2 separate regions of the Homo sapiens genome follow, and region 2 is linked to region 1. A link means that fine-mapping ties the variant in region 1 to the expression of a gene that starts in the linked region. Tissue or cell type: whole blood. Region 1 holds a variant in brackets; the other region holds the start of a gene. All regions are shown on one strand. Distances are between the middles of the regions.

The links. PIP is the estimated chance that this variant, and not a neighbour inherited with it, causes the effect.
Region 2: SH2D1A starts here. The variant in region 1 is the best candidate, but not a certain one, in a credible set for the expression of SH2D1A in whole blood (TOPMed, PIP 0.72).

What each region holds. Positions count from the first base shown.
Region 1 is chrX:124,371,423-124,374,135 of GRCh38, reverse strand. SH2D1A (SH2 domain containing 1A) reads right to left here. Exons shown (of 4, transcript NM_002351.5): 4 at 976-2,713. Among named protein-coding and RNA genes, the nearest start is that of SH2D1A, 26 kb to the right of the region's middle. The variant T/C (reference allele first, on the strand shown) is at 1,424.
Region 2 is chrX:124,345,375-124,348,137 of GRCh38, reverse strand. SH2D1A (SH2 domain containing 1A) reads right to left here and starts at 1,575. Exons shown (of 4, transcript NM_002351.5): 1 at 1,359-1,575. The coding sequence starts at 1,495.

The DNA.
Region 1 (2,713 bases):
CTTTTACTACAAGTTTGGCCAATCACCCCAAATTAGGAAAATGTCCAAACTGGGTAGTTTAACTTCCCCCCTAGTTGCAAACTACAAAATAGTGGTATCCCATTTACTGCAAGAGAAAACATAGGTGTCAAAGTTGAATGTATAGCATCCTAACAGGAAGACCAGGCATCCTATAACCTTGAAATGCTCAAGGGCAAATCTGGGTTTTACTAGTAGTAGACTTTGGATTCTAAGCTTAACGAAGTGAATCAAATAAAACATAAGCTGATGTTGAAACATTATTAACAGAGTTTAAAGCTGTTTCTCACATTTTTAATTCTGTGTCCATTCTACCCGAAAGAATATCTTAAATCCAGCCCTTTATTTATAGCAGAGGACTTAATCAGAGGCATTCTCTATAGACTTATTCTACCTGTGCACTACCACAAAGGTTCCCTGCCTGTAACAGCCAAACAGACAATTACCTAAGCTTGTCTCCCTACTGACCTTATCTCTTAAGAACAAATTTCAGAGGAAATGAATAAGTATTTGATAAGCTGTCATGTTCCTTTTGGGCTTGCTGACACACTTTTTTTTTTTCTGAAGAGAGCTGCACACTTGGAAATATATTGTGCATTTTTCTACCTTGACTCAGCATCTTACAATATGTTAGCATGGCAATATTTTAGATACAGCAAGGATATGACCTTTCTGTAAAGGTGCAAGTGATTACGTACTGGAAAATAGCAAGGATGCTCATGTTGGGAAAGAAAAGGTGAAAAAAAAAAAAAAAAACTTGATGAATAAAAGGCCAGCCAAAGAAGACAGGAAGTAGGCTCATCAACCGGGAACTTGGACAGCAATAAAATCAGAAAAGCACTTACCTTTTCCAGGGAATCACTCCGATAAGATAATCATCAATCCTTTATTTGGTTTATTAATAGCATCAGTCTCTGAATATTTTATAAGGAATTATAAGGAATATTTCAAGACAAATTAGGTAAATAAAGCTTTCAAACACTTTATTTAAATGTGAAAGACTTGATGATTCAAAAAAAGCTTTTTTTCAAAAAAAGGCTCTTGGAAGTGAACATGCAAACATAATTCATATGTTTAGGATTATTCCAGAATGAACACATTATAGAGTTAAAATTAGTTACGCCTATTACAATTTAAACTCAAGCCATATAATTAAAAATTATTAAACCTATGCAACTTATTATGAAAGTAGGATTTTTAAATTCCTTTACAAGTTCATGTGATGCTTTTACCTCAAGAAATGGTAAACCACCCATAATGCATTACTCAGGCCACACTCCACTTTTGTACTCCCACGGCATCCATATTAAATGCTCAGAAATCAGGTCTTGCCAGTACATGGAGAATAGCTCTGTCTCTCAGCAGTTCACTAATTAAAACCAAGTTCACCAACACCCATACACAA[T/C]CCAGAATTCCCAGTTATTATTTTACAGTGAAGCTTAGCCTTTTCATATGGCCCATGGACCAGAGTATTTGCACTGACCTATCTATCTGCCTCTAAAGACCAGATCTACCTACACACGGGGAACCTCGCTTATCATGTACTTATCAACTTTCATTGTTATTTTTTCCTTGTCTTTTATTGTTATTTTCTTTCACTGTCTTTTATCGTTATTTTCTTTCACTGTCTTTTATCGTTATTGTTTTCTCGTCCAACAAGACAGTGAACTGAGAGCAGGGACCAGGTGTTTTTACTTCTATGCCCTCAGCGCCCTATTATGTTTGTTGAGTGAATGAATTCTGTGAGCCCTGTAGCAAAGTGACATATAATCAATCACAAAATCACAAAAATATAAATGTGAGAAGAAAATGCCGCATAAAATTCTGTATCTCGTGTAGGTTTCAATCACTTGGAATTTTTTTAAAAAATAATACAACCATAAACTTTCCAGTGGTTTTGTAGGGTTACTTTAAAAGGAGGCTTGTTACAAATCAGTTACTCATGAGCTGCAGCTGCTGAAATTTCCCTTCAAAATGAGGTCTTCCATGTAGTAGAAACAACTGGGGCAGAGGTAAATGAAAAGAAAAACTCATTTCATTGGATTTGTAATACAATTTCAAATCCTGTAGCATCAAATACGATAAACATGTTTAGAGCATATTTTAAATTATAAGATTTTCAACTCCAGGTTGGTCTGTGGATTTTACTGTCCAATATCAGAACACTAGGCAAGAAGGTTGCTTTCAGAATTAAACATAAATCCTTCACTCTTTGTTTAGTGCTTGTTTTAGCACACAGTATACAGCTTCAAAAATCCCAAAAGAGCCTATGACACCATAGCTAGTGGAGAACTTGGCAAAGACAAGGGACACCAGCCAACTTCCCACCATACAATCAAGCAAGACATTTTAAAATTAGTAGCTATAAAATAATATTTCACTAAAAATGGAGCTTTTCACAAAAACTGAGGATTATTTTTATTTATATTTGGCAAGAATTGACATTAATCCTTTATAAAGTATTCATTATCCTTTTGTTTCCCATTTGTAAATATAATAACTGAAAATAACCTACGGAATTACTTTTTCCCAATCCTCGTTTCAAAGCTCCTCACTATGTACAAAAGTCCATTTCAGCTTTGACGACATGCTAGATGCTTCCATTACAGGACTACAATGGCTTTAGAAATGCATTTGTAGCTCACCGAACTGTATTATCTACAATATATAAGACTTAGCATATATTTAAATTATA
Region 2 (2,763 bases), 26 kb after region 1:
CTTTGTGAAAAATGTATTTAGCATGACCTGAGAGCTGCCACAAACAAGGCTTGACCGTTTTTAAAAAACAATATACAGTGAAAAATCTTCTAGCACCAGCATCAGGATAATCTTTCTTCACTGACCCATAAGGTATTTCAAACTCTTGTGGGGTATTATCAGATGCTGAACTTACTACCAAGCATTTAACCTCATTTGGTTTCTGTCTAGAACCTACAATGCAGGGCTGCTGTTTTCATGGATTTTTTTTTTTATCCTGCTGACAATAATGCCTGAGCTAGGTCCTTCCTTAGAAATGCCCCCATGATTCCTAAAAGAAATCAACTGAAAAGAGAAGATAAAATAATAATATATCTTTGGTATAATAATAATACCAATAGCTTACATTTATTGAACATTTACTAGGTGTCAGGCCCCAGTGCTAATTTTTTTACTGCATTATGGCACTTAATCTTACAATCCTATGAGGTAGGCAGTAATATGATACCTATTCAATGGATAAGAAAACTGGGGAACTGAGAGGTTAATTTGCCCAAGTCACAAACCTAACATCTGACGAGCACAGGACAAAGTCTCAGATCTGCCTGACTCCGGAGCCCTGGAGCAAAGACGCAGATGAATTTGATTCAAAATGAAGCCTTAGAATGAGACATGCCTAGGCAAATGGCAAAGCTGAATCATAACAAGGGTGTTTTCCCTCCATTCCCTTTAAGACTATTGTGAGTCCTAACGTTTATCAAGAAGGGTCCTATTTCTGAAATCCCCTGCCCCTCCCCACCCCCCACTACTTTTCTAAAGGATGCTACATCAGCAGATCCAGAGAGGTGATTTTACTGACACACATCCCCCTCCTCTCTCAGCATCTCGACCTAACTGGCATTGCATTCTTAAAGTAATTGACTCTGTTTCTTAATGTGCCTCCTCTCTCTGAATGTCATGCTCTTCCTTTGGGATGACACTTCAAAAGTCGTTTAAAGAGAGCTAGAGTAAGGCTCGCAGGGCGCCACCCGATAGGGGTCAAAATGGAAGTGGGGAGCCTGGGTCTTTCCCGGAGCGAAGGTAAACTGTGGACCACATTTCACCACCCGAAATGGCATTCTCTGCAGCTGCCCCAAAAGGCTCTGGTGAGGGCCTTCTGGAGAGCAGGAGGCCCAGGGAATGAAATCCCCAGCGAGGGATTGAGGCGAAAGTGTGTTCCACCACGGCCCTGGGCTGGACTTGAGGGTGGGCCACGGAGGAGGCGTCGGCGAGCTGCTAACGCCGGCGCCCCTGCCTGCCTCGGCCTCCACCCTGGCCCCAGCTGCTGTTGCCCACCGCCCACACCCTCAGCAGGCCCATGTCCACCGTATCATACTCACAGCACACATAGGCAGTACACGCCTGGCACGCTCTCGCTGTCCCTCAGCAAATAGCTGCCATCCAGCCCAGTGGCAAGCAGGAGCTTCTCGCCGGTTTCCCTGCTGATTTTGCCATGATACACAGCCACTGCGTCCATGGCCTGGTGGACTCTTGGGCAGGCCGAGGAGGAGAACTGTGCAAGGGAGATGCCGCTGCTACTGCAGCCAGGCACAAGTCAACCACCTGACTCCCAGTTCAGCCAGATGTGCAAAAAAGAGAGAAGCACCCCAACAACAGGATGTTGTCTACTTGCCTTAAACCTCCTTCTCACACTTCAGTTAAAACGAGCTCAGCAATTTAGTAGCTTGGTTCGATCGAGCTTGCCAAGGGCTTCCATCTTCTGCCCCCCAACACAGGGTTCATACAGAGAGGGGAGGAACATTGGAAGAAGGATTTTGCAAGATTGGGGCTGTACTGCCAACACACACCCTTGCACTCAGACGGGGATGCTTAGTAATGCTTCTGTTCTTGCGGTTTACTCAGAGGCCACCAGGAATAACTTAGCTCAACTAGCCCATAAGGAGTTGATGATAGAGGCAAGTTGTACATGTCTCTGTTGGTATGTGGACCCACTACGTAGGGCAAAAACACACTGACAAAATGAAAGGACCAAGAGCTCTGAGAACAAAACACTGATAGTTTTATCAGTACTGTCAGTATGCAATCATTACTGAACATGGCCATGAAGACTCCTACAGAATCAGACATAGTAGATGAACAGTGAACTCTGGGCAAGTTCTTCTTCTCCCTCTTCCTTCTACCTCACGCAGTCATCTTGAGAAGTCTTGATCCTGAGCAAATATTGATTTCTTTCCTAACACCTTGTCCAAGGTCCCAAAGTGCTAGTTGAGATACAAAAGTCACAATGTACATCCAAAGATGTTCCAGATGTATCTATTTGATGGGCTTTAGATGAGACTGTGAATCATTTAACTGGTGCTTTGCCTTTATGTGGATTTGTATGTGCCCTTTGGTGTACAGGGCCCACCTTTCAGCATTTTGTCCATAAAATCTGTTTTGAATCATTTGCAAGTTGTTGATAATTTTGTTGTAACTTTTATTCTCTGTTGTTTCTAGAAAATGTTATTTCTTCGATTGAGGCTAAACTGTCTTTAATATTTTAAAACCTTTCAACCTTCATTTTCTTCTCTGAAATAAAACATTGCTTCTATTTCAAAATGTGCTAGGTAATATTTCCGCAAAGCTTCCTGCATTTTCACTAGAGTAAGACTTTATTTATTGCTGAAGCTGAATGGTCTTGTACATGTACCTTTAGATTATGTAAAGTACTTTTAAAATTTGAATTTAAATAACTGAAGCTATGTCGTCTATTATATGCTTTCTGCAACTTCAGTGTGTAGTTCT